3 linked regions of the Homo sapiens genome follow. The protein of the gene in region 3 interacts with the protein of the main gene of each other region in a pairwise test. Each region holds a gene or a part of one and is shown on either strand. Other genes may lie near its edges. The genes, in order: PAN3, TNRC6C and PAN2.

The links.
Region 1: the proteins of PAN2 (region 3) and PAN3 interact in binary tests that used the Homo sapiens proteins (3 or more experiments, as listed by UniProt).
Region 2: the proteins of PAN2 (region 3) and TNRC6C interact in binary tests that used the Homo sapiens proteins (3 or more experiments, as listed by UniProt).

The regions. Positions count from the first base shown.
Region 1 is NC_000013.11:28,251,095-28,261,916, reverse strand, and holds part of PAN3 (PAN2-PAN3 deadenylation complex subunit PAN3), read right to left. Parts: intron 5,626-10,822; coding exon 5,378-5,625; intron 1,471-5,377; coding exon 1,366-1,470; intron 517-1,365; coding exon 459-516; intron 1-458. UniProt on the Homo sapiens protein: Regulatory subunit of the poly(A)-nuclease (PAN) deadenylation complex, one of two cytoplasmic mRNA deadenylases involved in general and miRNA-mediated mRNA turnover.
Region 2 is NC_000017.11:78,044,320-78,055,141, reverse strand, and holds part of TNRC6C (trinucleotide repeat-containing gene 6C protein), read right to left. Parts: intron 6,298-10,822; coding exon 3,694-6,297; coding exon of another isoform or gene 3,685-3,693; intron 1-3,684. UniProt on the Homo sapiens protein: Plays a role in RNA-mediated gene silencing by micro-RNAs (miRNAs). Required for miRNA-dependent translational repression of complementary mRNAs by argonaute family proteins.
Region 3 is NC_000012.12:56,316,811-56,327,632, forward strand, and holds the end of PAN2 (PAN2-PAN3 deadenylation complex catalytic subunit PAN2), read right to left. Parts: intron 10,822-10,822; coding exon 10,554-10,821; intron 10,150-10,553; coding exon 9,807-10,149; intron 9,600-9,806; coding exon 9,503-9,599; intron 8,645-9,502; coding exon 8,525-8,644; intron 8,319-8,524; coding exon 8,199-8,318; intron 7,900-8,198; coding exon 7,771-7,899; intron 7,684-7,770; coding exon 7,484-7,683; intron 7,376-7,483; coding exon 7,239-7,375; coding exon of another isoform or gene 7,227-7,238; intron 7,104-7,226; coding exon 6,997-7,103; intron 6,789-6,996; coding exon 6,690-6,788; intron 6,575-6,689; coding exon 6,501-6,574; intron 6,400-6,500; coding exon 6,252-6,399; intron 5,949-6,251; coding exon 5,805-5,948; intron 5,673-5,804; coding exon 5,613-5,672; intron 5,359-5,612; coding exon 5,268-5,358; intron 3,212-5,267; coding exon 3,054-3,211; intron 2,955-3,053; coding exon 2,811-2,954; intron 2,678-2,810; coding exon 2,498-2,677; intron 2,372-2,497; coding exon 2,278-2,371; intron 1,625-2,277; and 5 more. UniProt on the Homo sapiens protein: Catalytic subunit of the poly(A)-nuclease (PAN) deadenylation complex, one of two cytoplasmic mRNA deadenylases involved in general and miRNA-mediated mRNA turnover.

The sequences.
Region 1 (10,822 bases), on a different chromosome or scaffold from region 3:
GAATACTGTCATATGTAGAATTAACAGAAATAAACTAGATGATCAGTAGTACCTTGGGACTGTCCTTTTTTTTTTTTTTTTTTTGAGACAGGGTCTCACTCTGTCACCCCGGCTGGAGTGCAGTGGGGCGATTATAGCCAGCTCACTGCAGTCTTAACCTTCAAGGCTCAAGTGATCCTCCTGCCTCAGCCTCCTGAGTAGCTGGGACTACAAATATGCACCACCACTCCCAGCTAATTTATTTTTTGTAGAGACAGGTTCCCACTATTTCGCTCAGGCTAGTCTCAAACTTCTGGGCTCAAGCAATCCTCCTGCCTCAGCCTCCCAAACTGCTGGGATTACAGGTATGAGCCACCAGGCCCAGCCTGGAACTCTTCTTAATAATGCATAAAACATGTACTACCACGTAAGAATTATAACAGCCTTTAAAAGAAAGGAAGGATCAACTTGCTTTTTACCTGGCATATCTGCTTGATCAATTTGAGCCATTGTTATTAAATGTCTGTTGATCAGCTCCTATGAAACAAAATAAGTATATTTTTATTTAAACACAGATTCTGAAACCTGGAATTCCTATTATAATTAAATAACCTAAGTATTAATATTTTTGGCATATGCACTTTTTAAATATTAAAATCATTTAAATATTAAAACATTTCTAAACATGGTAAAATGTCTGAACTCCAGGCCCAGACAGACTTAGACATGCCATAATTAAGATTGGGTTTAAGTAGATGTGCCCCTTAAACACGGGTAGCTGGGCTACCCAAAACACGTGACTAACGCTGTGGCTGAAAATTCAAGGTCTACTAGTAAACTGGTAATAATTAATTTAAAAAACACTATACTGGTAGAACTCACTTCTATGAAACAAAAATATTTCTGAGAATCTGAGTGTAAAGTGAAATTCTACATACCAAATAACTAGCTGTTTACCAAAAATTAAACAAAACAAAAAAACTTTTAAAAAACATTCTTTTAAAAAAATATTGAGCTCTCTTAAAGTTATTTCCTGAGCCAAACTACTTATTTTTAACCTACATCTATTAGAAAAATACTGTTAGAAACCATTTAAATTATTTATATACTTCAAAGAGCCTTTTCATAGAAATAAAATGAAGTACAGAACAGTGAACCATTTAAATAGCTATTCTATGTTTTATATCCTGCCACATAATTTATTTGAAATTTTTTTAAAAGACAGGTTTCCTTAAAAAAAATACCAATTAAAACTTCTAAATTCGATGTGCTTTACTAGAGCATATTTGATTAAATAATATGATTTGAAAAGAGCTCTGTTCTTTCCCCTGTTCACTAAAGCACAGGAGACATTAAGTATTCCTACTATGAATTCTGAAAGCATACCTGTCGGAGTTCATCAGCCATGAAGAAGGAAGGTGCGTTTGCTTTCGGTTGCATATAAGCAACGTGAGGTGCAGTTGGAGGATAAATATGATAGTTTGGAAACACCTAAAAAGGTAGGAAGGGGGTAAATGTAATCACTCATTTTTCTTTCTTTTTTTCAGATGGAGTCTTGCTCTGTTGCCCAGGCTGGAGTTCAGTGGCGCAATCTCGGCTCACTACAAGCTCTGCCTCCCGGGTTCAAGTGATTCTCCTGCCTCAGCCTCACGTAGCTGGGATTACAGGTACCCACCATCATGCCCAGCTAATTTTTGTATTTTTGTAGAGACAGGGTTTCACCATGTTGGCCAGGCTGGTCTTGAACTCCTGACCTCAGGTGATCCACCTGCCTCGGCCTCCCAAAGTGCTGGGATTACAGGTGTGAGCCACCACACCCAGCCTGACTAATTTTTCATAATCAATAAGCTTTATTATTGTTTTGATAAAATTTTAATCTTTACATGATAGCAATAAATTTTAATACATTTTAAATCTTTAAATAATATTGAAGTAAAAACCTCAGAGAATAGCTGTTAGAGAATACTTTCTGAAAGAATTCATATTAAAAATAATATTTCGGCCAGGCGCAGTGGCTCACAACTGTAATCCCAGCACTCTGGGAGGCTGAGGTGGGCAGATCACCTGAGGTTGGGAGTTCGAGACCAGCCTGACCAAAATGGAGAAACCTGGTCTCTACTGAAAATACAAAATTAGTGGGGCATGGTGGCGCAAGCCTGTAATCCCAGCTACTCAGGAGGCTGAGGCAGGAGAATCACTTGAACCAGGGAGGCAGAGGTTGTGGTGAGTGGAGATTGTGCCATTGTACTCCAGCCTAGGCAACAAGAATGAAACCCCGTCTCAATAAATAAATAAATAAATAAAATAAAAAATTAAAAAAATAAAAATAAACATAATATTTCAGTAATCAATTAAAAATCTAATGAGCCAGCCTGGCCAACATGGTAAAACTCCATCTCTACTAAAAATACAAAAATTATCCTGGCTAACATGGTGAAACCTGTCTCTACTAAAAATACAAAAAATTAGCCGGGTGTGGTGGCATGCACCTGTACTCCCAGTTACTCGGGAGGTTGAGGCAGGAGAATCATTTGAACCCGGAGGTGGAGGTTGCAGTGCACCAAGATTGAACTAACGCATTCCAGCTGGGGTGACAGAGCCGAGACTCCATCTCAAAAAAAAAAACAACAAAAAAAACACAAATTAGCCAGGCTTGGTGGCAGGCACCTATAATCCCAGCTACTCAGGAGACTGAGGCAGGAGAATCGCTTGAAACTGGGAAGTGGAGGCTGCAGTGAGCCGAGATCGTGCCACTGCACTCCAGCCTGGGGGACAGGGGAAGACTCTGTCTCAAAAAAAAAAAAAATCTAATGAGAAAGAAAACATTTCTTCAGATACAGTAAAATTTAAGCTCCATTGAGAAGATAAAAGTAGCTCTTTGGAAGAAATGTCACATAGTCAGCCTTCTGTATCCCTGGGTTCTGTATTCAAGGATTCGACCAACCATGGGTAGGAAATATTCAGGGGAAAAAAATGACAATACAACAAATGAGAAGTAATACAAATTAAAAATACATTATAACAACTATTCACAAAGCACTTATACTGCATTAGGTATTATAAGTAATCTAGAGATAATTTAAAGTATACAGGAGGATGTGTATAAGATCTATGCAAATACTATGTCATTCTATATCAGGGACTTGAGCACCCAGGAATTTTGCTATCTGTGGGCGTCCGGGAATCAATCCCCCTTGGATACTAAATGGCAACTATACAAGCAGTTCATCGCCACTTTTTGAAAGCAACTGGAAGGAAGGAAGGAGAAACTAAAGGTGTTTGGGTACTGGGAGATAAGGAAGTGATATTGCCCTGGCTGCCCAAAGAATTTCCCCTTTCACAGGCATTTTGTGGCCAAACTAAACAAAGTGTTATTCAAACCTACTCTAGGTCAGCAGTTTAAGTGAACAGAAGGATACAATAATACATTTACCTTCCAAGCAAACTACAATAAAGTTACTAAATCAGCTTCCAGCTTCTTGTCTTTCATTCTTTCAACTGGACTCATCCCACCACCCTTTGTTCTCTTTATCACTCTTTTCTCTGCCTCTCCTTCACTGGTCCATGATACAAAATCAAAGTTCAGTTTTAAATATCTTTTCTATTTTTTCATTCTTTCATTTTAAACAATGAAACCTTTTTTCTCTTTTAAAAACGAATTCAGCTGATTTGCGCTGCCCTAACATGACTGCTCTGCTCTGCATCTCAACTAGGAAGCAGTTTTGTGATACTTGTAAGGTTTCCTTTAGCCTGTGTCTGCAGGGAGAATAATATCTCTTTTTTCTTGTGTTGGTTTCCTTACATAAGATAGCATAGTTTAGGCTGGGCATGGTGGCTCACGCCTGTAATCCCGGCACTTCAGAGGCCAAGGTGGGCGGATCATTTGAGGTCAAGAATTTGAGATCAGCCTGGCCAACTGATCAACTGGGTGAAACCTCATCTCTATTAAAGATACAAAAGTTAGCCAGGCATGGTGGTGTGCGTCTGTAGTCCCAGCTACTAGAGGCTGAGGTGAGAGGAATGCTTGAACCCAGGAGGCGGAGGCTGCAGTGAACAAAGACTGAACCACTGCCCTCCAGCCTGGGTGAAATAGCGAACATCCATCTCAAAAAATATATATATTTATATAATTTTATATATTAATTATATATTATATATAATTTATATATAATATATAATTAATTATATATTATATATAATTTATATATAATATATATTAATTATATATAATATATATAATATATATTTATATAATTTAATAACTTTACATATATATAAAATATATATGTATTTTACAATATATTTATAGTTTACAATAGGGTTCATGTTCCTATGGAATCTAATGCCTCTGCTGATCTGACAGGAGGAGGAGCTCAGATGGTAATGAGAGCAATGGGGAGTGGGTGTAAATACGGATGAAACTTCACTTACTCGCCCACTGCTCACCTCCTGCTGTGCGGCCTGGTTCCTAACACTGGTCTCTGGTCCAAGGATTGAGGACCCCTGTTTTAGTGGACTCTGACTTTCTCACTCACTTCATCTACTACTTATTTTTCTAGGGTAAATAAAATAATTTTTGAATATGGATGAAGTAATGAAGCTAAAAAAGGTACAATTTACGTAACATGGAATCCTTCCCTCTCCTTCCCCATTCATTCTCGCCCCCTGACTCCTGTTCCTTCTCCCTCTCCTGGAACATTACTAATTGACTCTGATAAGAAATCTTTCTTTCTGGCCATGTTCTTCCTCTTTTGGTCTTAATATTCATGTTTCCTCTGGGGCCACCTCTTCCCATTTGTTTCACGATTCTTCCCTCACTTCATCGCCAGTCCTTTGGTAGCTCTTTCGTCATCTACAATCATGGCTCTCTTGGGTCTGACTACTCTATCTCCTGAGCATAAGAGCCATACTGCAGGCCCCTTATCATTATGTGTCACTCCACCATCCACAGATCTAGCTGTTAAATAACTACCTCATCTGAAATAAGGGTTTATCATTGATTTGCTTCCAGTAACTACTGAGGACATACCATCTACTTTTTCTAGCTTCTTACTGAGGTTAAACTATCTATACCTATAAACAAATGTCAGCAGGCATCAATTCCAGCTAGTACAAGGTAAACCCATAAGCAAAACATGCCATAAAGACTAAAATAAGAGCATGGATATAATCTAATTTCTGATTAAACCAGTTTAGTCCAAAACTAGAATTATTAGTAAGGCAGAACTAGATTAATTTGAAGAGTTGAGAAGAAGAGACTAGACTTCTCATCTAAGTTAGAAAATGAAATACTTTTTTGCATCACAATAAAAAGCTGCAGGAGGGGGTAGACCGCCTCACAACTAAGAAGGTCCTGTTACAAGAGAGTACTAAAATTTCCTCTTTAATGTAGACATACCATTCCAGTCAAAGGTGCTGGAGTTGTGTCTGTATAGAAGTAAGTCGTCCCACCAACAGTTTCCTTTTGGATCACCTGACCAGAAGACGGAGTCTGAGAAACAGGATTATTAACAGATGTAGAGGCACTAGAAGGCACCATGTAACTTGCTGGATTTGGAGTGTGACTTCTTCTTCTGGGAGCAGGAGAAGTATGTGGAGTAATCTTGGGGGAATGAAGAGGGGAAGACCCAGCAGACAACGACATTCCTGAAGAAGATGTAAAAATGTTTCTTAATGGAGCAATAATTGGTTTTAGAGAACAAGTCTGGAAAATAAAATGCAAACATTCATTTGGAAGAAACATCATCTTTGGGATCGTAAGTGCAAAGATGAAGGAAATAATTTTATCTTGTTTTGTTGTAGAAAAAGCTCTGATTAAAGCAAATGTAAAGTTTCTTTTTTCAAATGTACTTATTTCCAAATATGTTAGCAGATTTACTGCAAGAATAGTCTCCTCCATATCAAGGTTTACATCAGGAAATTTAATAGCAAGAGTGACCAAAAATTTAATAAATTAATGGAAGAGTGGGAAGTAACAGAATTGTGGCTCTTTATAAAATTATGCCTTTTATAAAAGTTTTTCTTTTATAAAAGGCATAATTCCTTTTTTATTAAGAATCATTAACAATACAAATAGCACATTCCCCAAATATATTACAGTATTAAAAATTCAAATTATCTAATGAAGAGCTACTAGATTTCATTCAGCCAAATATAATTAACAAAATTGTTTGAAAAAGCAAAAAAAAAAAAGTTGAAATACATAGCAGCTTAAGTGCCATATTTTTAGTATCAAGCAGTCTGTTGTTTTGATGCCTTTTTGTCATTAACTCTAAACAGGCATACTCTGAAAATTTCTACAGATGCATACTATTTAGAATTAGGCCAATTGATACCATTATGTTCTAGTGGAACAACCACTATGTTCCAGTGGAACAACCACAACCAGTAAGAAACATTATGTGCAAAGCGCCCTCTATTATGAGTTTATTGTGAAGAAAGGGAAAGGACAATTGTCTTTACCCTTCAGGAGATTCCAAGCTAGCTGAGAAAAAAAGACCAGGTCACATGTAAAAGACATAAAATAACTTAAAAAAACCCAAATATAAACTAATACACTACAAACTACATGCATAAATGCTGATGAAATGCAAATTAATTAAAACCAGGTAGCGTTAATCAAAGGCTTAATGGAGGTGATCAGTTCTGAGCAGACTGAAAAGGGTATTTAGAGCAACAGTTACCCTTCCTGAAAAAAATAAGCTTATCCAGGAACTGTTTTCTGGCTATTTGGTGAATGCCTAAAAACCTTCACCACTGAAATAATATGCCACCTCACAATATAAGAAAAGGGCTACCAAAAATGCCCTAGTCACAAAATTATGATTAACAGGGATATGAGTTTCAATTTCTAATAATTCATAAGATACCAACATGTTTTCTGAAAACATGTAGGTGAACAAAAATAAGCAGAGAACTGAGGTAATACTTTTCTTTTCTTTGGATAGCCCTCTGTACTTTCTGAAGAGCCTCAACATAATTATTTCTGGTTTTCTGAGCAACTAAAGTAGGTAGGTGAGGTAAATCAGGCTATAAACACCACAGGACATACATGCAAAGTCAACAGCAAAGCCAAGACTCAAACTCAACTCTCCAAATTCCCAATCTAGTACTCCTACTTACTATAACACAATGTCTACTGCATTGAGATTAAAATAGGATAGGAATTCTCGAGTTATGTCTTAAATGTGTATAAAAGAAACTTTAAAAAAACCCAAACTCCTTAAAAAAAATATGAAGCCAAATTACTATATTTATATAAACCTTTTATTTTATTTTTTAAAAACTATTCCAGAGCTGTTTTTAATCTAACTCTATATTGTACAGTTAATTAAAGGTTAATCCATACAGCAAAAATTATATTAGACTATTATCAATGGATAAAAACTCCCTACTTGTCTAAAATGAAATGCATTTAGACAGATTTTCCTAAAGCTAGTCTCTAAGACTTTCCAAAATAAACTGGCCAAGTAACCAAAGATGAGTAAATTTGTTTACTATTATGACATTAAGTAATACAACAGAACTACAATTCTTGAGCCCTTTCAATGTTTCAGGCACTAATCTAAGTGCTCCACATCCATCAATCTACTTAATCCTCACAACCACCCTGTGAGGTAGGTATAGCATATTTATTTCAGAGGAGAAACTAACTTAAAAGATCAAAATAATTACTGTAAGGACAAATATAGGTAATTCAGCAACATAATCAAGACTCAAACTCAGGTTGATTTAATTCCAAAGTCAGTGCTCTCAGCCAACATGCTATATAGTTGACCAATTCCTAAGTCTTACACACATACGAAAACAGGAAATCAATTACATGTTTTACTAGCTTTAGTGTGACTACTAAAGCTACGTGGGGATGGGGCTATGTGTAGCATTGGCTGAAGGGAAAGATTCTGACATCAAAGTAGGTATGTAAGTGAGACAAAAAGTAGAATCTCTCTTCAAGGCTGAGTACGTGGAAAGAGATTACCATAAAAACAATCTAAGGTGAGTTAAGATAGAAATTCACCTATAGTAGAATTTACTATAGGGTATCAAGAGTTCTCTTAAGAATTCTAAATTTTGTGAGGTTATTTTAATATAAAGTTGCAGAAATAAAATTTGAGTTCATCTGAGCTGAGGCTGACTGGAGTTACTTAAATACATTCAAATGTAAGCTGAGTGCAGTGGTGTGAGCCTGTAGTCCCAGCTACCTGGGGGACTGAGGCAGGAGGATCGCTTGAGCCCAGGGGTTTGAGGCTGCATGAGCCACAAAGCGCCCATGAACAGCCACTGTGCTCCAGTCTGGGTAACATAGCGAGACCCTGTCTCTCTAAGGAAAAAAAAAAAAAGGAAAGCAAAGAAAGAACATTCAAAATAAAACATGTACAACAGTAAGCATCACCACCCCCGCCAATAAGGATAATAGGATACTTAAATTGCATAGGAAATTAAAAACTAAATTACTGAAATACCTAATCTAATCACAAAAGACACAGCTTTGTGTCATCTGTATATTTTATAAGTGTGTTAAAGAACTGAGTAAAATATCTACACATCCACTTGGAGAGAGGTATTCTGTATTTAGTATTATGAAGACAATACTAACAAGATGCCCATTCTTAAGTGCCTACATACAGTACTAAATTATAAACAGCAAGAAAGAATAGAACCACACTACAGGAACAAGTAGTTTAAAATAGGATGCTGAATTAAAATGAGCAGATTCTGCTCAAATTAAGAAAATCTGATTGAAAGTTAAGAATTCTTAATTTAAAATGACATCTTCCATTGCATATTATTTAATGTTTAACCACAGGAATCTTACGCTAAAAGGGTTTCAGGAAACCATTTGATATAATAAAACTAAAGGTCTTCTTTTAATAATGAGGTACATCAGATACACTGTAATAGAAGTTTCTTCTTCTTCATTAGAAATTTCATGTTTCACACATAAATATTCTTGTATAATTTCAATCTTTCCATATACAGCAGGGAAAGGGCTACCAATGGTTACTGGAACACCCTGATATTAACTGACACTCAATCAACAGAGCACTACAGCAAATATAGTAATACATAGAAGATCAGCATAACAACAATCTAGAAGGATGAAAATTTGTATTTTAAATATTCTAAATTAAGAATATTTCACTTTCGTATTTCATTTTTTGTATTTTTTTTTGTCATTTACTCTTGAAATGACATTCTGATGACATCAGTATACAATAATTACACTGTAACTTCTAAAGTGAACATGCAAACTGAGATATTTAAAAGTAATATATGATAAATTAACTGCTTTAGGGCATTTGAAAAATGATTCTCAAAAGTACCCAATTCAAATAAAAGTAAGGAACAACACAGGAATGTCTACTGGAGAAATTAACTGGAACTAACAAAAGAAAGAAATGAGATTTTAAAAACTTCAAGGCTAATCTATAAAGGCAAAGCATCACTGTTTTTTTGGATAACACAATTCTATTTCTGGAAAACCTAAGAGAAACAACATAAAAAACTCCTGGAAAATAATTACAGAATTCATTAATGATTAGAAAATTAATATATACCAAATCAGCACCCTTCCTAAATACAACCAACCAGTTAGGACAATATTATTTCTGGAAAATGAGAGACTAAACTAACATGGACACCCTCCCTCAACCCCTACCAATGTTATGAACACACAGAACTGTGAGATAAAACACAACATCCCAACATTTAAAATATACCTGATCTTAAAAAAAAAAAAAAAAAAAAAAGGGCCCGTCGCAGTGGCTCACACATATAATCCCAGCACTTTGGGAGGCTGAGGCAGGCAGGCCACCTGAGGTCAGGAGTTCAAAACCAGCCTGGCCAACACAGCAAAACCCCATCTCTACTAAAAATACAAAATTTAGCTGGGTGTGGTGGTGCGCACCTGTAATCCCAGCTGCTCAGGAGGCTGAGGCAGGAGAATCATTTGACCCTGGGAGGTGGAGGTTGCCGTGAGCCGAGATCACACCATTGTACTCCAGCCTGGGCAACAGAATAAAACTCTGTCTCAAAACCAAACAAACAAACAAACAAACAAACCAACCCCAAGAGCAAGAAACTAAAGCAGAATCTGAAGCCAGGAGGTTATGTCGTGGAGTTTGGGGAATTATAAGCTAGGTCAGATACAGTCTCTACAAGTTGAGTTTCTAAGGCCCACAAGGGTACACGAAATGTGGCCATGAGCCCACAGAATACAGAAAATGAAACTAAAACCGCTGTGTAAAACCAGGACTCTGGAAAAGCAGTAAATACAGGACATTTCTATCAGCTCATAGAACAAAAAGGGAAGCCTGTCTGTCGAAGAGCAATGGAGAAAAAGGAGGAAGGTTGGAGGACTGGGGTGACGTCTTAAGAGAAATGGAAACCACATGCCTGTTCCATGCATAAGTATAAGAGAGAAAATCCTCATGAGATTCCATGTTACAGGAATCCCGACAAGAAATCAACACAATACTCGACCTGCTTTGGAAAAACTCTTCAGACACCTTGCTGAAGCAAACACCAAACTATTTTGATGAACACTTCCACAAAAATGACAACATACAAGAACCTTCCACAGAAAATAATCGCACTTAAAAGAACTCATAAGAACGAGCATGTACAACATACTTGAGAATTAGCAACACAAGAACAAAGAGTCCAGGTAACAGAACCATATAAAACAGATTATAAAATATAATTACTACGGAGGTGATTAAGAATATGAAAGAAGTGACAAACATCACAAAAGAATAAGGTGTCTGTAATTCTAAAACAGAGTGCACTGGCTCTTTAAGAGTGAAAACATAAGCATTAAAATTAAAGGGAAAAAACATCAAAA
Region 2 (10,822 bases), on a different chromosome or scaffold from region 3:
AAGAAAGTATCTTTTAATCTTTTAATAAATGTAGTGTGGCCTAAGCGTACAGTGTTCACCAAGTCTACAGCAGTCTACAGTGGTGCGCAGTACTCTGCAGTGGTGTACAGTGCTGAACTCTACTTTGCAGTGGTGTACAGTAGTCCGCAGTGGTGTATGGTAGCGTACAGTAGTCCGCAGTGGTGTATGGTAGCGTACAGTAGTCCGCAGTGGTGTATGGTAGCATACAGTAGTCCGCAGTGGTGTATGGTAGCGTACAGTAGTCTGCAGTGGTGTATGGTAGTGTACAGTAGTCTGCAGTGGTGTATGGTAGCGTACAGTAGTCTGCAGTGGTGTATAGTAGTGTACAGTAGTCTGCAGTAATGTATAGTAGTGTACAGTAGTCCACAGTAGTCTCCAGTAGTGTACAGTAGTCTGTAGTAGTCTGCAGTGGTGTATAGTAGTCTACAGTAGTCTGCAGTAGTCTCCAGTAGCGTACAGTAGTCTGCAGTGGTGTGCAGTAGTCTGCAGTGGTGTATACTAGTCTACAGTAGTCTGCAGTGGTGTATAGTAGTCTACAGTAGTCTGCAGTGGTGCGCAGTAGTCCACAGTGATGTACAGTGCTCTGCAGTGGTATACAGTGGTGAACTCTACTTTGCAGTGGTGTACAGTAGTCTGCAGTGGCGTGCAGTAGTCTGCAGTAGTATACAGTAGTCTGCAGTGGTTTACAGTAGTCTGCAGTGGTGTATAGTAGTGCACAGTACTCTGCAGTAGTCTCCAGTAGTGTACAGTAGTCTGCAGTGGTGTGCGTAGTCTGCAGTAGTGTGCAGTAGTCTGCAGTGGTGTGCGTAGTCTGCAGTAGTGTGCAGTAGTGTCCCAAGCCTTCACATTCACTCACCACTAACTCACTGACTCACCCACAGCCACTTCCAGTCCTGCAAGCTCCACTCATGGTAAGTGCCCTATACAGGTGCACCATTTTAAATATTTTATACCATATTTTAATGTCCCCTTTTCATGTTTAGATATATAAATACTTACCATCGTCCTACAACTGCCTACAGTATTCAGTACAGTAATATGCTGTGCAGGTTTGTAGCCTAGGAGCAACAGGCTGTACCGTATAGCCTAGGTGAGCAGGAGGCTATGCCATCTAGGTTTATGTAACTATACTTTATAATGTTAACACAATGCTGAAATTGTCTGATGACACATTTCTTAGAATGTATCACCATTGTTAAGCTATGCATGACTGTATTAATTCTGTTCCTGGAGCTTTTTTGTTTGTTTGTTTAAAGAAATGGGGTCTCGTTATGTTGCCCAGGCAGGCTTTGAACTCCTGGGCTCAAGCCATCCTTCCACCTCAGCCTCCCAAGTAGCTGGGATTACAGGTGGGGGCTCTCAGATCACTTTCTGCATACCTTTACTATAATGCTAATTAAACTCTATTAAATTTGATATTACTAGCCTGTCCCACTAGACTATTCCTTACTTAGGAATAATCTTATTTTTCTTTCTTTCTTTTTTTTTTTTTGAGACAGAGTTTCGCTCTGTCGCCCAGGCTGGAGTGCAATGGCCCCATCTCAGCTCACTGCAACCTCCGCCTCCTGGGTTCAAATGATTCTCCTGCCTTCACCTCCTGAGTAGCTGGGATTAGAGACATGCGCCACCATGCCCGGCTAATTTTGTATTTTTAGTAGAGATGGGGTTTCACCTTGTTGGTCAGGCTGGTCTCGAACTCCTGACCTCAGATGATCTGCCCGCCTTGGCCTCCCAAAGTACTGGGATTACAGGCATGAGCCACCACGCCCGACCTAATCTTATTTTTCAAATCCCTTCATTTTCCTTCTTCCTGCTTCTCCTTATCCCCCCAAGTACTTTATAAAATGTAAGGGCCTAGAAATATTAGTCATATATTAGTAAACAATTGGAATCACAAATTCAAGTACTCCAAGGAACCAGTCAGTTAACGTAAACAGGCCCAGCGTAAGAACAGCAGCGCAAGCTTGATGATGCTCAGTGGCTACTGATCAAAAGCCTCAGTGTTGGGAACCGTCAGGGGTCGGGGGGCAACGTGACATGGTATGGAGAAAATGCACAGGCCCTTATGAAGGCAAGTGGCTCTGACTGACTGCTGCCATGTGAATCCAATGTCAGACTTTTCAGGTTTCCAAAGGAAGCCAGAAATCTGGAATTTAATATAAAACATTTGCATTAAAAAAATGCCAATTCACAGAAAAAATGTGGGCCAAAAAGGCACATTTGTGGGACTAGGTGCAGCCCACGGACCACTGATTTTTGACCTCTGGTTTAGTGACACTGATGCGTTAGCTGGAGGCTAAAACTGTCTTGAGGATCCATAAAGGATTCCTGATGTGGCAGCCTCAGAGAGGTACACAAGTGAACCACCAAGAAGTCTACGAGGAGGCTGGAGGGCCCAGCTGGTGGGCCAGGGGAGGTCCTGTAGGGCAGTCATAATTGAATTAATGCAGCAGGCAGGACATTCTCCTGTTGAACGCTTATGACAAAAACCAAAAAGGTGCCCAAATGCCCAGGCTGCCCTACACAAGATGGTGATTCCCCAACTCCAGTGGCCCCCGCATGCAGACCTTCTGGGCTTACTGTTTCCTCCCTGCACCATCACTGCCCAACACTACGTATATACTTTAATTCGTGTGTTGTTTGCCACCCTCACTAGATCTAGACCCCTCCATGGCAGGGTTTTGACTGTTTTGCTTCCTGCAGTTTCCCCAGCTACTAGAGTACAGCCTAGTACATGGCAGGTCCCAATAAATTCACTGTGTATGGTGATCTCTGGGCCCTGACATTGCCCAGCAACCCTCCAGGGGCCCCAGTCAAGTCAGTTCTCTGTTCCTGTCCTCTACATGGGCTAATGCATGCTCCCTCTCTACTCGTGCTGCTGCTCCTAGCCAGCCCTCCTCCACTCTGGGCTAGTATTCACACTCCCAGAGAGAAAAGAACCCCAGAAGGTGGCCTTGGCCCTCTGGCCATGACAGCCTGGCCCACCTGTGCAGCGCTCTTTCCTGCTCCTTGCTTCACGAGATGGATGAAGTGCCCTTGTCCTGCTGGACACAGGGATCTCTTCCCTCTTCATTCATTCTCATCTCCACTTGTTCCTTTCTAACAGCTCTGAAACATGCTCACGACTTTGCCACCTTAAAATCTCTCTACTCTGGACCTTGCCCCTCTGGCTGAGAACTGGTCTTCCGTATCTGGGACCTTTTATTGTCCTCACTGGACACTTGGAGCTCTGTGCCTCCTGCTGTGCTCATGGGCATGTCAGTGAACTGACACAGTCATCTGCCAACTTGCCCAAGTTCTGAACCATGTCTATCCTATCTTCTTTGCTCCTGTATCCAAATGGTTACGAAATCTTGGAATCATGCACTGTCATTGCTTTCAAATCCATCATCTCCACCCCAGGCCACCACCGCCACCACCAAAACATTCGCTTGATGTTCTACTGAGTGTGCTTAATATATTTTTTTCTTGAATAGAAAACCACCAGAGGATCCTACTTTGCTCTCACTGGATAATCTTTAGATACAATATTGCACGGTGATAGGGAACTTAAATTATTTTAATGCTATTTGCTATAAAAAACACTACTCGGAGTATTCATGAATATATAATGAGAATAAGCTTTTTTTTTTTTTTTTTTACTTGTAAAGAAACATGAAATACCTTTCCTACCTGGACCAAGCAACGGTGATCGATTCAGCTGAGTACCGGCCTGGTGCGGGGGCGGCGTCTCGACCCTGTGTGTGGTGTTGCTCGTGGTAGTGGTGGTGGTGGTGGTGGTATTGGTCGTGGTACTGCTCTGGATGACCGGGTTGTTTCTATCCCACATGTTTACAGTTTTATTGTTATAGTTGCTTGGGTCCCCCCAAGCTGAGGTACCATCATCAATTTCCATTTTGCGGCGAATGGACGGTGGAGAGGGTTCTTCCCAGCCAGTTGCTTCACTGCTGTCCTTCTGTTTGACCGGTACCGGCCCCCCGATCCACCCTGTTCCTGTCTGTTTCACAGAAGCAGCTCCTCCCCAGTTACTCACATTGTTGTCTTGGGGTTTGCTAGCCCAGTTCTGTTGGGGGCCAGGTTTTAAAGTCTCCCCCCAGTTTGTACCTGGATTGGCCTTTGTATTTGTGCTGTTGCCCCAGCCACTGTTCCCAGATCTCGTGGTGTCATTCCAACCAGACCCTGACCTATTACTGTCAGCATCCCATCCAGATCCATTTTTTTTCCCATCCCCCAAGTGTCCAAGGACAGACGATGAATCTGCCCAATCTCCCCCTCCTGCACTCCAGGCTGGATTTGATCTTTGTCCATCTCCCCAGTGTTGGGATTTGGGCTTTGGAGGCTCACCCCAGGTGGGTGACTTGTCCTCCTGATTTGCGGCCCCACTCCAAGCATGGCCACTCTTGGCAGCAGCAGCAGTACTAACAGCAGTAGAGCTTATCGAGTCCCCCCAAACCCCCGGGCCACTTGGCGCTTTGTTGTTGCTGTCTCCCCAACCTGTGTTTGCTGGCACAGCGGCAGGTGGCGCGTTGACCCACCCAGATACTGAAGAGGTATTTGTACTGTTCATGATGGACCCATCGTTCTTCCCCCCTGAGTTTGAAGCCTGAGTAGCTGCACAACCCCAGGCCTCTGTCCCATTGTCATTTTTCCTTTCAGACCTAGGGGATTCTTCAAATTCCCAGGCAGTGTTTTGCTTTACAGGAGTCTGTCCCCAACCAGTATTAGACAGAACTCTTGGGTCAAGATCATTCCTTGGCAACTGGATGTGCCCTTGGTCTATAATCCCTTTATCTCGCCTTCGGCCTTCTCCCGTTCCTTCCCTCCCAGTGCTTCCTTCATTGTGGTTGCCAGAACCATCACTACTTCCTTCACTTGCTGTAGTTCCAGAAGATGCCGCTTTGGCCCAGGAGTTCATGTGTTCACCACCAGGCTGTACGGTAGGGTTCTGGCTGGTGACACTAGGACTCTCCCACCCTGTTGATCCTTTCCCATTGATGTCACTGTTGGAATGCTGGTTTGGGGGCTTTCCCCATTCCCCATTCACACCGTTAGAGGTGCTTCGGCTGGGGTGGCCCCAAGCTCCTGAATGGATATTACCAACGCCATTGTTGCCACTGCCCCTTCCCCAGGCGAGTATTCCAGGACCAGCAGGAGGTCCTGAATCCCAAGCATTTCCTCCACTTCCTTCCTTTTGCACAGCACTGCTGGATCCATTTTGTTTAGCACTTAATGCTGAGTTCACAGTGTCTCCATTCCCCTGACTGAACCCAGAATTGCTATTTCCTGTGGCAGGGTTACCTGGGGACAGTCCCCACACAGAATTGCTTATTCCTTCAGCACTGCCCCCACTGACTTGAGAAACTGATGATCCATTAGCACCAGGAAGGCCTTGCAGGTGGGGCGGGATGATGGCCCCCATACCAACAGCCATGCCCCAGTTTGGCAGTCCATTTGTCTGCATTGCATTGATAGGGTTGGGTGAAGAGTTCATGGGGTTAGTGTTATTTGGTCCATCAGTGTTAAGGTTCTGAGGTTGTGCGCTGAAAGACACATTCTGAGAAGTGGACGTTTGTGGTTCTGTGCTCTCTTGTGGCAGCAAGTTTCCCCAAGCACCTAAAGTGCCTGTTGGGTTCCCGTTCTGGTTGCCCATATTTTGACCTATGGCACTGACTGGACTGCAAATACTGGAAGGGTTGCCTGTCGCCACGGTTCCTTCATGTCCAAGTACAGGCCAGGCAGCTGGGTTGGCATTAGGATTAAGGTTAAGATTAATGCCAGCATTGGAGTTGGAAGCACCCCAGCAATTCTGACTTCTCCCATCTCCAATCATAGTGTCCATTTTTCCATCCCCACCACTGACAGAGCAGTGAGCCAGGCCAGAGCTGGAGCCTGTGGCTACACCCCACACTCTGGCCGCACTTCCATTACTGTTCGCTCCCCCTGCTCCAAGGGCACTCTGATTAGAAGGGCTTTGGACGAGTGCGCCATTGGTGCCATTATTGCCATTTGTCTTCTTGGTATGTCCAGTGAAGTTGCCCTGGGCACTCCCTGTAGCCATGCTACTGTTCTCTGAGCCACAGTTGGAGGCAGAGTCAGTGTCTGTAGTACATTCTGAGGCAGATTCAGTCTCTGTTCCTGTGATGGAAGGCCACGCCTCCTTGTCAGTCCTATCTATTATCACTTTATCCCAGCTGCAGTTGGCTTCGCTTCTGTAAGTAGGCTGCTGTCCCCAGTGGGAATTTTCATAATGATCTGCCAATCCACTATGACTGAGATCTGAAAAAGATGAAACAAAATTCAAAATTAGATTTTCTACTCATTTGTCAATGAATCAACTGTTAACTAGTCTTTGGGGAAGCTCTTTATTTCAAGTCTTCAAATCTGAATGACAAACACTAAAAAAATGACTTAAAGAAAAAAGCTATTTGTCTTCTTAATAGATCCCATTTTAAAGAGCGTTAATGTTTTTAAAATTATATCAATTCTTACCACTACACTGTACTATTATTCCCCCTGGAGAATACTCACAATGCACGTTAGCACATCAGCATCTCTGAAAGCATCTGTAGTAAAGGCAGCTTTGAAAGATAAGTGACTTTGCAACTCCTATAAATACAGAGACTGAGAAACACTGGCAATGACAGTAAGTTCACGTAGAGTTTTGAATAAAACTTGTAGTTCTCTTTAAGACCTCTAATTAGGTTACAGTATTATATAGAGGCGAAACATGGCTTTCAGTAGAAAAAAATTGTAAATTGCATTGCAGAATCATAACAGAACCAATATTTGGGGTGGGGGAAGTGGTGACGGAAGGAAAGAGAGAAAAGACATATGAGACAATGCTATCTTATGTTATCAAAAATACTAAGGATTAGAAATGTTTAATTAGCTGTATACTACTTTATCTGATCTTATCTGCAATTTGGTTTATCACTGTCTCCTGCACATTCATAATAAAAAAAAAAAATCTGTAGCTCAAGGACATCACTAAAAGAAGAAAAAGAAGGAAGAAGAATCTCAGCCCCACAAGTGCTATCTTTTTGGATCTCTAAAGATTCTCTCAATCCTTGTTTTCTATTTCTTTAGAGCCTTTTCTTTGGAGATCCCTAGAATAACTTTATATGCCATCTTCTTATAGTATTTAACTCTTCGGGTCCTTTTAAAGAATCCCCTGTTTGGATCTACATTTTATTTCCTATGACTTTAACAATTATTTGAGTATTTCCAACATTGCAGTCAAACTTATATTTCGATCAACTTTTTGGCAGACTTTATTCCAAGTATGTATCACTAAAAAATAAAGTAAAAGAAATGTTAAAAAAATAATTTAACCCAAACATACAACAAACTCACATATGTGATTTAGAAATCCTTGGTGAGTTTCTCTAAATACTACAATATACAAATAAACTGCAATAAAATATTTTCTTCTCTTTTAGATCCTTTTAATTATGTTCTCTTCAAATTTATTTTAACAAGAAAAATCGTATGGACAATTAAAACATGAATTTCCCACATAAATTCTCTTTTAAAGTTTGATGGAGCTAAAGGAAAAAAAGGAAGTGTGCAAAAAAAATTAGCATTAGAAAGACCATACTAAAGCTAATATCAACCTAAAAGAGATTTTTATTGCCTGATTTAAGAGTAATGTAATGATTTTAGAATTATGCTCTAGGTGATTTCAAAGTAGGTACGTAATTCCAGGTGAAAACTACAAAGGAAAAATGAAGACAGGCAACAGAAAACTTTAAATGTTGAAACTGCTATAAAATGACTAGGTTCTTTTCACTGCCAATTATTAGGGGTTGGCTCTATAACCCTGGTTTATGACAATTTGGTTTTGCACATACTCTAAAAACTATCTAATATAATAACTAACTAAAGAGATAAATAAGCCATTCCTCATTTAACACAGAAAATAAGACCAAGTTAACACACAGAGATTATGGCTTGTTGCCAGCAAATATTACCACATTTCATTTTACCATCAGTTTGGGTTCCCTCATGGACAGGTTGTGCCATAAGGCAGGCTGCCTCTTGACTAAGACAGCACTCACTGCAACCCACACCGAGAAAGCAGGGGGTTAACAACCTGGCTGACCAATGCATTCTTTTCCATATGTGAGGTGCCATTCGAATACACAGTATTATTGGTTCCATTCCACAACAGTCACACTGTAAAATGATCTGCCCTTTGTTAATGGTCTACTTTGAGGACTTGAGGATTGCTCAGCCCCCAATTTGACAGGTTCATACTCAATTATATGACACGTTTGAAAGAAGGATAGCATTATAAGCTGGTGGCTAATAAATGCTGTTGGACAACTGTCTAGCCACATGAAATGAAAGTAGATCCCTTATATCGTATACATGCCAGATAAAGTAAAGAGCGAATTAGGAAAAGCAAAACTTCTTAAAGCTTATTAAGGAAGCAAAGGAGACCATCTCTATGACCTTGGACATTGTATCATCTTGTAGAAGACATGAAATACGTAAGACATAAACAGGTGATAAATTTGACTATGCTAATATTAAAAACATCTATATAACAAAAGATATCATATAATGAAAGCTAAAAAAACAAGCCACAGGCAGGGAGAAGATACAACAGATAATGTATGGTTATCAGCTTAAAGAATTCCCGGCCAGGCGCAGTGGCTCTCGCCTGTAATCCCAGCACTTTGGGAGGCCGAGGCAGGTGGATCACCTGAGGTCAGGAGTTCGAGACCAGCCTGGCCAACATGGTGAAACCTCGTCTCTACTTACACAAAAATTAGCCGGGTGTGGTGGTGCACGCCTGTGGTTCCAGCTACTTGGGAGTTGAGGCAGGAGTATCACTCGAACCCAAGAGGTGGAGGTTGCAGTGAGCCGAGACTGTGCCACTGCACTCCAGCCTGGGCAACACAGTGAGACTCCATCTCAAAAAAAAAAAAAAGAATCCTAAAAATCGGTAAGAAAGAGGCCAACAACCCAACCAGAAATGGGAAAAGGATAGGAACAGGCAATTTAGAAAAGAGAAAACTCATAAGCCATTAACATATGAAACAATAATCAACCTCATTAATAATCAAGAAATGCACTTTAATGTCACACTGTAGATGAAAGTGACACAACACTACAATTTTTGAATTGTGGTTCCCTCTGGGGGTGGGATGGGGACCAGAATGGGGTTAGAGGATGATACCTATAACATTTTTAAAATAGAGAGCCCTGAAGCAAATATGGCATGATATTATGTTAAATCTCTATTGTGAACACAGTTATATTATTTTCTATATACTTTCTTCTATTGAAAAAATATTTTCAAAATTTTTAATTTTTATGTTTAAATGTGATACAAATCAGGCGGCAGAGCAGTCTGATTAAAAACCCATCTGATCCCTGAATTAAGTGTCTAATTTCTGAAGGTGAGTTCCTTGAGGGCGTGGCAAATATCTTTTTAGTTTTCCATTCAAAATGCTTGCCACATATAGGCAAACAATATATGCTTCCTGGGCAAACAAAACCATACATGCATAGTGCTACAATCTGAGTTCTAGCTGAAGTCACCAATCAGCTGCACTTGTACAGCCCAGACTGCTTTGAACAAGCACGTCCATCTTCTGAGGGAACCACTTCCACTACAATGACGCCGCCTACTCAGACCTTCCCGGGCTTTGAGGTGTAGATCTCAACTATGCCACAGCAAAATAACCACCAATGGGGCAATACTGGCAGGAAGCAAAGTCACTTCTACAAAGGCCAATATCCATCCCCAATAGCTGAAGTGCCCTAAGGATGGCCATATAGGATGCCATAAGGATGAAGTCATGCCTGTTGAGTTTACATATTGGGTATTTCTAGAACCTTTTCCATTAAAACAAGAAATAAAACTTCCCTCTGACTGCCCCTGTTCCAAGCACCCTCATGTCTTGACTGGATTACTGTAAATAACTTTCCAACAGGTCTCTTCCCATGCCCCCTACTGCCCCACCCACAATAATGTGCTCAACACTGCATACAGTGCTCTTTTCCAAATGAATGCCCAGTGGGTCACCAATGGTTGGGTCTCTTTTGAGGCCATTCATATCATTCTTTCTCCTGCTCTGTGCTCCAGACAGTTCCTTGAGGTGCCATCTGTGTCCTGCCCTCCCAAAGACAGGGCTGTTAAAGGTGCCATCCCCTGCCTGGGCTCAATGTCTATTCTTTTTTCCCATCTCAAATCCATGGACATTTAATTTGGGACGTTTTTGTTCCCTAGTTAGGACTCCCTCATACATTCATTGTAACAGTCTTCCTTTCAAGTCACTTAGACCAACCAGGGTGGCAAACAATTTCTGTAAAGGGCCTAATAGCCAAAATGCTTTAGGCTTTGTGGGCCATATAGTCTCTGTCACAACTACTCAATTCTGCTGCTGTGGCACAAAAGCAGAATGAGTGTGGCTGTGTGCCAACAAAACTTTATTTCCAAAAATAGGTGATGGGCCAGATGTGGCTCATGGGCCCAGAGCTTGCCAACTCAATTGAAACAATAACTATTATTGAGTGCCTCCTATATGCAGCTACTGTGCTGGGGACACAGCCATAAACAAGATGAACGACTTCTTTCTCTCATGGAGCACACATTCTAGTGTGAGTCATCGTGTGACTGGCTGGTTCTCCCTCTAGGCTGTAAACACCATGAAGGCAAGGCGTACCTATTCTGGCTCTATTTTTACTGCCAGTGTTCAGCAGAGTATCTGACAGAGAAGAAGCAGTAAATAAACATACATTGAATGAATGAATAATTCTTATCAATACTTGAAAGCAGTTTGCTAGTAAT
Region 3 (10,822 bases):
AAGTGAGCCACCGCGCCCGGCCTAATTATACCCTTTCATATCCATAACTTTGGATTCCGGACCTTTACCTTCAAAGGAAGGAGAGGAAGACTGAAGCCAGAGAACCCACACTAGCAGTTCTCTAATGAGATAAATAACAAACGATATTTTATTTTTATTTTATAAAACATGCAGTTTACAACAAATTTTTAAAAAATGGAACAAAACTTGGGACAGGCAAGTGGGATGGAAGACAGATGCTTCTCAGCCATCAGCAGGAATAAATGAAGCCGGCAGCCAAGCTTTGTCCAGGATCCAAAGGCCCTTTTGGCAATGGTATTGGCAACACTGGTTTGCTTGGGCCACCAACACTCTACTTGCTGGCCCCTCCAGGTATCCCTGAAGCAGTTGGTGACTTGTGCTAAGTCTTGAACTACTGTGGTATCCTCTGTCACTGTCCAGGACTTCAATCCCTAGCCAGCTAGGAACTTACAGTTATGGTTCCAGGAGCTTCTCTGCCTGGATATTAGTCACCCAGGATATTAAGAATACCAATTACTTTCCATCTGGGTCAATTCTAGACTCCATGTCTGTACCACTGTTTTGCAAAGAATGAAGAAGGAATGAATCTGGCTCCTAGAACCTTTGCAACAATTCTGCTGTGTTCCAGTTCAATTAATAGCACCATCTGTGACCCTAGACCCTGAGCACGTCCAGTACTGGAAGTGGACAAGGTATAGCCAACTTAGGAAGCCATCTCCCAGTTCTGGGGCTATAGAACAGTAAAGGGAGAGGGCCGTGGTTCTTTGGGAAGGGTAGTCAGAGCGCCAGCACTGAGGAGAAGACAGCTGCATCTGTCAGAGACAAAACCAAAAGCATGATTCAAGCTGAGTGGAGAAAAAGCATCTTCTCATACTTCCTATGAAGGAAAAATGCAAGAGAAAAAAGGGCATGGACCTTCCCTGAACATTTTAGACTTGGGCAAGAGGAAGTTATAGTTAATGGAGAGTTTCGATAAAATGTATTTTACTGAATGTTAGGAGGATGAAGTGCTTTGTAAACTGTTAAGTGCTATTCTCCATATGTGCAATCAAAATCCACCCAATTGGGGGCGCTCAGGCTCATGCCTGTAATCCCAGCACTTTGTGAGCCCAAGGTGGGTGGATCGCTTGAGCCCAGGAGTTTAAGACCAGCCTGGGCAACATGGCAAAATCCTGTTTCTACAAAAAGTACAAAAATTAGCTGGGTGTGGTGGTGTGTGCCTGTTGTCCCAGGTACTTGGGAGGCTGAGGTGGGAGAATCACTTGAGCCCAGGAAGTCGAGGCTGCAGTGAGCTGTAATCACGCTACTGCACTTCAGCCTGGGTGACAGAGTGAGACCCTGTCACAAACAAACAAAATACAAAATCCACCCAGTCCAGTTTCCCTTGTCCCATCCCAGGTCTTACTCTTGGGACTTGTTTGGCCCTCAGGCTCAGGCACCTTCCAGTCCATCTTTCTGCCCTTCTCATAAAGACCCTTGAGCACCTTGTGGAAAGACTCAGGCTCAGTGCCATTTTTGCTTAGCTCCAGATACTTTCGGTACAGCTGAAGGGCTGTGCGGGCATCCTCAATACTGTCATGGGTTTCCCCTTGAATCTTCAGGTCTGGGGTAAGTAAAGGTGGAATAGTTTGGGACCCAGCAAAGGGAGGTAGGAACATGTCTCCCCACTCCTACCTGACTCCAGAAAACTAAAAAGCCTGACTGCCCTTAAGGAAAATTGTCAGACATCTTCCTCAGTGCACAGAAGGGATATTGAAGTTAATTAAATCCATTAGTAACTGTCACCACTAACTGAGGGTCTCCCCTACTCCCATTTTGTCCTCTAACACTTTTCCTACTTTTTCTTTTCCCCCCATGCTTTTATTTTTTATATTTAAATTTTATTTTAGATTTGGGGTACATGTGCATGTTTGTTACATGGGTGTATCGTGTACTGGTGGGGACTGGGCTTCTGGTATCCCTAATATGCAAATAGTGAACTATGCACCCAATACGTAATTTTCAACCCTCACCCCTCACCCACCACCCCAACTTTTAGAGTCCCTAATGTCATTCTTATGTCCATATGTACTCATTGTTTAGTTCCAACTTATAAGTGAGAATATGTGGTATTTGATTTTCTGTTTCTGAGTTAGTTCACTTAGTATGATGGCCCACAGCTCCATCCATGTTGCCGCAAAGAACATGATTTCTTTTTTTTTAAATGGCTGCTTCTGCTATTAATGTAGCAGGGGCCTACAAGGCAGAGCAACTCACCCAGAAAGTACCAAGCAAGGAATCGCAGGGAAATCATTCGTTTTCGGGGCATATGGAACAGGTAGACAGTGTCAAGGACTTGGTCCTTGGGCACCTGGCAAGGATAAAAGAGGGGGAGACTTAAGGTAGGGGACCTATAATTCCCCATTCTCTAAAGGCACAATGTATACCCTGAGGGGCCCACTCTCACAAGAAGACTCTTAAAAGAGCCCTGCCAAACCATCAGGTTGATGACCCGGAAGTCCTTCTGCAGGCCATGACCCACAAACTTGACTCCAATGTCAATGAGAAAACGAAGCTTTAAGTAGGTAGACTTGAGAGTTGTTAGGTGCTTGGAGGAAATTTTGGCATCGAGGTCACCAGGCTTTATACCCGAGTATTGAGTCAAGTAATCCACCACCTAGGAATAGAGAAAAGGACAAGCCTTTTTCAGGAAGTGAGATGGAGTCTTCCCCTATCACTCTTCCCTGGGTTCTTGAGCACTGTAAGTAAGCACCAGGGTGTGCCTCACTTGCATCTCCATATCCTAATACCTGCTCCTGGGTAGAGATGTAGTCATCAATGAAGGGGATACCCTCATTGGGTCCCTGGCCCCGAACACAGGTAATCCTGGCTACTGACATCTGGCTTGGTTTAATGGTAGACTTGGTACCATCACTGCGTAACTCTGCTTCCTCCTACATGAGAAGAGTTAATAAGGAAATCAGAGAAATGCTTACAACTCCTAATATCCTCAGCGTTCTCTTCCAATGCCCCATCCCTTTGGTCTTGGTTACCTCATTAAGGGTGACAAACTCAGCATCCAGACCCACCAGGTCCCCAATCTGTGGCATCTCATTCAGCATCAGTGGAATAAAGGTAGTATGTGTTTTCCGCTGCTTCCGTGCCAGCGAGGCTTCAGCCAGCAAGACACTTGCCTCAATAGGGTTCTTGACTAGAAGGGAGAATGCAGAGGACACAGGGCTTGGATAGGGAAGTGACTAGGGGAGAGAAGCCCAGTGTGGCTGATCATCGACTCTGGGTCTTCACTGTGATCCCTCAATAATCAAAGCACGTGAGAAAAAAGATCATGTCTGATAAATGGGACAGGTAGACAGAGCAGGTCACATCACAAAATTATCAACAAACATGCTGAGAAAAAACCAGAAAAGACCACAGAGAAGAAAGAATAAGATTTTCACTTGGACCTTAGTTTACAGAATCCAGAAAAAGGTTACAGAGAAACTATGGTTTAAAGGTACCAAATAGGTACTTAATAAGGAGCTCATAGCCAGGCGCGGTGGCTAATGCCTGTAATCCCAGCACTTTGGGAGGCCGAGGCGGGCGGATCACCTGAGGTCAGGAGTTTGAGACCAGCCTGCCCAACATGGTGAAACCCCGTCTCTACTAATTAGACACAAAAAAAAATTAGCCGGGCGTGGTGGCACATGCCTGTAATCCCAGCTACTTGGGAGGCTGAGGCAGGGGAATCGCTTGAACCCGGGAGGCAGAGGTCGCAGTGAGCTGAGATCATGCCATTGCACTCCAGCCTGGGCAACAAGAGCGAAACTCTGTCTCAAAAAAAAGAATAATTAGATGTAACATCATAACCTAAGCCATTCTGATCAAACATCCCCCCCTCATCTCATTTCCACTCCACTCTCAAGACTTACAGCTGCTTTTTTTTTTTTTTTTTTTTTTTAAGACAGGGTCTCAGGCTGGGCACTGTGGCTCACGCCTGTAAACCCAGCACTTTGGAAGGCCAAGGAGGGTGGATCACGAGGTCAGGAGTTCAAGACCAACCTGGCCAACATGGTGAAACCCTGTCTCTACTAAAAATACAAAAAATTAGCCGGACATGGTGGCAGGTGCCTGTAGTCCCAGCTACTCGGGAGGCTGAGGCAGGAGAACTGCTTGAACCCGGGAGGTGGAGGTCGCAGTGAGCCAAAATTGTGCCATTGCACTCCAGCCTGGGTGACAAGAGTGAAACTCTGTCCAAAAAAAAAAAAAAAAGCAGTCTCATCCTGTTGCCCAGGCTGGAGTACACTGGTGCAATCATGGCTCACTCACTGCAGCCTTGACCTCCTGGGCTCAAGTGATCCTCCCGCCTCAGCTTCTCCAATAGCTGGGACCACAAGTATATGCCACCACACTCAGCTAAATTTTTTTTTTTTTTTTTGAGACAGGGTTTCACTCTCGTCACCCAGGCTGGAGTGCAATGATGCAATCTTGACTCACTGAAATCTCTGACTCCCAGGCTGAAGTGATTCTCCTGCCTCAGCCTCCCAAGTAGCTGGGACAACAGGAGCACATCACCATACCCAGCTACTTTTTGTATTTTTTGTAGAGACAGGGTTTCACCATGTTGCCCAAACTGGTTTTGAACTCTTGAGCTCAAGTGATCTGCCCGCCTCAGCCTCCCAAAATGCTGGGATTACAGGCCATAAGCCACTGTGCCTGGCCTATACTAGGCTAATTAAAAAAAAAAAAAAAATTTTTTTAGGCTGGGTGTAGTTGCTCACGCCTGTAATCCCAGCACTTTGGGAGGCTGAGGCGGGCAGATCATGAGGTCAGGAGTTCGAGGCCAGCCTGACCAACATGGTGAAACCCTGTCTCTACTAAAAATACAAAAAAATTAGCCGGGTGTGGTGGTGGGCGTCTGTAATCCCAGCTACTCAGGAGGCTGAGGCAGGAGAATCGCTTGAACCCAGGAGGCAGAGGTTGCAGTGAGCCGAGATTGCGCAATTGCACTCCAGCCTGGGTGACAGAGCAAGACTGCATCTCAAAAAAAAAAAAAAAATTTTTTTTCAAAGAGATGGGATCTTGCTATGTTGCTCAGGCTGGATTTCGCACTTCTAAATTTAAGGTCTGATGAGCAGGAATCTCTTTAGTATCTCCAGAAATATTAACACTGGTTACCAATCCTAAGTACTTGCAAGCAATGTCCCAGATCTCACCCTGAAGCCCAATCTAAACTGTCCACACACTTGGGTCTACTATGTAGCACTTACTGTTCAGGTTGTATCTGGAATTGAGATTCCGTTTGACATAATAAAGGATTGCAGGTACTTTCCAATTCATGTCAAACTGCACAGCTTCATGCTATAGAAGAGAAAAAGCACTTATGGCTAATGTATATCACCCTTTTCCTTTTCCCCCACTTCAGACGGAGGCCAGGACTCAGGTGCTAGTTTTTGTTTTTTTTCAGGTGCTATTTTTAAGTGCTAATGGTTTTTATTCCTGAGGATTCCTTCCTCCCTCCCTGTTGAATCTGCCTGGCATTCTATAGAGCCCTAAAGATAAGGATGCTAGGAAAAGGGGAAATGAAAGAAGAAACAGAACATGTTGCAACTAACCTTATCAATAGGTTCAATAAGAAAGTCATTGAACAGATACCACTGCTGGTGAGTAACGCCCTATGGAAATACAAAGAAAGCCTGTGGCGATACAAATTGATGGCTGGACCACTCTGTCTCAGACTCAAGGACAGATCTGGGACTCACTGTGGCCATCCCAGGAGTGTTCCTGCCCTCTACAACCTCACTCACCTCCTTGCGCTGGTGGTAGGTCTCTCCAACTTTGATGTGAGCCACCAGGCTGCCCCCTGTGCGTGAGTCCAGGATGTGTACCACAGTAGCCATCAGGTCATACACATAGACACCATGCTCCTCCTCTGCCCTGGCTGGGCCCCACTGTGAGGGGGGTACCCAGGCTGCTAAGCTAAGTTTAAGGATGGGGAAGGGAGGGGAATGGGGACAGAGGACAGGGAGTTGGGGGTATGGGGGATGGGGGACCAGGGTGGGTTATCTCCATCCTAGCCCATCTAGGACCCCAACACTGAACTGAGTGACTATGGAAAATCCCCTAACAGGTAAATACTAGGCCTTATTCTCTTCCTTTTCCCTCTGCTAAGTTTCACCTTCCCCTGCCCTCCTTTACCTTCTGCCCCACCTTCTCTCCCTTATTCCCTTTCCTCTTCCCGGTTTTTCAACAACCTGCATCTCATCCCCATCAGTCCAATTGCAAACATCCAGCCCTTTGTTTTTGGTCATCTTCATGCGAATGGAGAAAGGAAGCCAGACGTTCTTCAACTCCTCAATGGAGGGACACACCAGCACACCCTCTGGACTCCCTAGTTCCTTCCTATCAGGTCAGAAGAATTGGAAATTTGTTCCGAAAGAGGTCTTGATAAGAGGAACCACTGGGCAATTCAATCCTTTGACAACTCCCAAGACAGCACCTACCAATCAGCCAAAGCAAATTCCTTGTTCTTGGAGATTTCCCCACCGTGTTTCTTTACTGCCATCTTGAAGGCAACCTGAACACAGAAGAAAAACATCCAGTTCTTCAGGAATGTAATCATATATGGAGGTCAGAAGGGGGATAAAATGAAAAATTATTCCGGAAGCCTTGTTTCTAGTCTGAGTCCTTACCTCAGCCTGCATTCTCCAGAAATCAGCCTCTTTTGAGCTGTTCACCTCACAATTGATGACAAGAATATCTGGCAGATGGCGGATGTTGCGGGTCTGAATCTGAGAGGAAGAAACAAACAAGGAATGGCAGGGAATGTACAGGAAAAGGAGTCTGGACAGGGACCTGGGTCTGCGTCTTCAAACTGGGATTCCTCACTCCACCAGAGATCCCTGGATGGCAGTGCTGACAGAGCCAGCCCCACATGGGATAGTGGCTGAATCTCCATGGCAGGACCAGGACTCTAGTCCAGTCCAACAGTCCACTCACCGTGGGCTGGTACTTTTCACAGGTGTCACACCAGGCCTGTGTATTCTGGTCCAGGCAGATGCTTCGCTTCAGCACCTGAGCAAAGTCATAGTTCTTCCCAGTTTTATCTGAGGGAAAATTAGATGCTATACTCCTGGTTCTCCCCTCTACCCACAGTTAGTCCCCAACACCCTCTCCCTGATATTACAGGACATTTTGGGGAGCCTTCCCAACTGAGCTGAAGGGTATACCACTTTTGCTACCATCAGGGTAGGAGAGTGTGAAAAGCAGAGTGGATGAGGCTCGCACGGTCTCACTGCCACAGCGGCAGAGGCTGCAGTTCTCCATCTCACAGCTGAAGAGCTGCCCAATAACAGAGTCCCCCGATGAGCAAAAGCTGCTAAGAGTGGAGAGGATGATATATGCACATTGAGGAAGTTAGGAGACCTTTTAAATCACAGAGGGGCCTGTCATGATGGCTTTAACTATTTCTATCCTGATTTCATACCTGCCTCCAGCACCTCGATAAGCCTGTGGTATTTCCAGCTCCTGCATATCTTGATGCAGTTGAGTGAGAATGAAGCGATTCCACCTCTGAATGAGCCTGGCCAGATTGCCCTTGCCTGAGGCCTCATCTGAGTCAGCCAGGATTAGACCGAGGGCTGAGGCCTCAGGAATAGTACGGAATGCCCGAAGAAAATTATTGCCCTGGAAATGTGTTGGTGGAAAGGGGTTATTTTGTCTTTTGTGTCCACCTTCCTTCCCCTTCCATTTTAAGTGTCTCCAAGTACTGACCTGGCAAGGGTCACCACGAGAGAGGTCCAACATGTGAAACAGGAAGCCCAGCTCACATGCCAGACAGAACTCCTTCTGGCAAAGGTGGTTTTGAATTAGACAGCGTACAGGCTCCAGGAAATAGAGCACCTGGAGGGAAAAGCAGAAGAACTGATGTAGGAAACTGGCCTGGGGGTGAGGAGAAATATGGAGGTTAAGTGAGCTGGTGGAGAAAATGTCCCAGAAGCAGGAGTCCACCGAAGCAGTGAGTCCACCAAACCGGTGGAGCTCAGAGGAGACTTGAAAGTTGTAGAGGCAAGAAAGAATTGTAGAGGAGACCATGGTAAAGAGAACACGGCTGAGGAGACCTGGAAAGAGCAGGGTCGAGAGCCATAGGGAAGAAGAAAAGCAGCAGGCACGTTCAAGTTACAGGAATACCCAACCCTTACCTGGATCATGCAGTTACAGTAGGCGTTGGGAATGTGGGGCTCTAATCCAGCAAACAAGGTCTTATTGTAGTGTTTGAAGTCAAAGTCCTCCAGCCCTAGCTTGGAATATTTGATGGTCACCTAAGGTAGAAATTGTCTGAGCAAGACAAGGATATTCTCAGAGTCCCCAAATCTTTCCAGTAGCCACAGCCTTTCCTAGAGCCTTCCTCCTGGGTCCAGGGTGGTAGTTGAAGGCCTCCTGACTGAGTCCTTCAATCCTTTCTCATATGACTTCCTTCCCAGGGTACCTTTCCCCACATCCCACAGGCCCTGATGTCCCCCAGCACCTTGCGGTATTTCTTAGAAACCATGTGGAGATGTGGTTCCTCTTCTCGTCCTACTGGTGACTCAGTGACCTGGCTGAAGCTGTCAAATTCACTGTCTGACTCCTTGAGTCTGTAGGGTATCTAGGGATTTTAGGAAGAGGTAACCTTGTTGGATGTCTTGTCATCTTTGGCTTCACACTCATTTATCCCAACATTGAAACAGCCACCAAGTCCTGAACCTTCTATATTCATAGCACTCTCAGCATCCGCTGCTTCCTTTCTATTTCCACTGCCATCACTCTGCTTCAGCACAGATGGACAACTGTGATGGCGTCCACACTGGTCTCCCTATGTTCACTCTGTCCAGCACACCACTACCAAATTAACCCTTGCAGAATGCTGCTTTCTGTGTATTACTTCCTCTATTATAGACTGGTGTTCAAAGCTTCGCAATCTGGCCACTTCTAATTTTAATCGCTCACTACATCCCAATACCAACAGCTACTCCGGCCAGACTGGTATACTCATGTAGTCCCCCTCAGATATGTGTTTTGCATTTATGCCTCTTGAGATCTTTACTAACACTCTTCTCTCATCTTGGATATTCTCCTCTGTTACTATCTACTTAACTGATATCCCACCTTTCCAGCTTAATACCCAGCTCTTTCATTACACCTTCCTTGGTCACTTTAGCCTGGAATAACATTTTTCCTCCAAACAGCTCTGGCACTAAATGCTTATGACATTCCTTCAGCATTTAACAACAGAACGTAATTTCTGATATGGCTATGTCTTCTCTTCACCAACCAAATACTAAACTTCCTAACAGCAAGGACCCTAGCTTCTCTATCTTTGAATCCTCCCTAACACCTAGCATAGTTCCATCAATTTGGTTGGTTACCAACAGGATCTAAAAACAAAAGAAAGACTAGTAAAGGAAAAAGATAGGAGAAACTTCAGTGGGCCGGGGTCGGGGCTGACCCTCCACTCTGAACACACCTGATTGCGCAGCCTGGTGCGGGGATTGGGCGCATAGCCAATGAAGCCCACCTTCTTCATGGTGCGCAGAATCTCTGCATCCACGGGTGGTGCTCGCCTACAATCCAGCATAGTTCTAGGACTTAAAGAGTTGTGGTGTACACTGGTCCACTCCCCAATCCCCAAGGGTCCAGAGAAAAAGAAAATACTGAAGGTAGACAAAAATCAGGAAAGTAGTAGAATAACAACAGGGCTAGCAGAGAATTCTGGTATCTTGGCCCTTTCCCTGTCCCTCCCGCCTTTTGGCCCAGAGGTAGGGTACAACCTGGGAGCTGGAGCAGAGTTGGCAGCAGGCCAATCAGAGAGAAGTGTGTCAGTGGTGAGTGGGACAGGGATGAGGGAAAGAGGCAGCAGGTCCTGGCTCCAGTCCAGAGGAGGCAGTGAGTCCACGAGACACGGCAAAGCAAACTCAGTCTCACGGGAGTAGGGGTTGAAGGAAGGCTCCGGGGAATCAGTCCAGAGGTGCACACAGCCCTCAGAATCCCCAAAGGCCAGAGCCTGCTTGCTGGCTGACACATCAAATGTCATTAGCAGAGGCCCCACAGGATTCACATGAAAGATATCGGCTGGGTTGGCCAGGCCTGTGGGTTCACAGAATTGGCACTGCCCTACAAAGGAGGAAGAAACCCACTGAGCCCTAGAAAGTGAAAGGGAGCCATATTCTTATGCCCTTCCTATCCTCTTCCCCTGATTTCAGGACAAGATGGGCCCCAAATCCATGCCTAGAGACAGAATGCCACTTCGTGCCTTCCATAAACCACAGATGGTTCGCTACTCAGCAAAGAGCAATTCTACAGTTATTTTGCCTACTTTATCTTTACCTTTTTCCATGTTCCTCATATTCAAGAAAATAAAAGCTCTAATCTCTGGCCAAACCCAAGTAAAACCTTGGGACCCTGATGAAAGGTTACTTCTTTCCCCAACAAAGAGGTTTCAGGATGAGTACTCCTTCGGGTTCTAGCTCTCCTTTGCTCATCGATCCCTCCTACCCAATCCCATATGCCCTTCATACCTGACTGAGAGATGATAGCAAGACGAGAAGTATATGTAGGAATGAAGCGCAAGAAGGCAGGATCCACATGTACTTGAAGTGGTGTGATGGCACGCATCATGCGCAAATCATACACCTTGAGGAAACGGTCGCAGGCCAGGCCAGTGAGGCGGCTGGAGAAGCCACAGGCAGCTAGCAGGTTGCCATGCACATCAAAGTCTGACAGACTTCCTGAGAAGGCATCAAACTCATGTTCCACCTTAAAAGTACGGAGGTCTCTCAGGGAAACC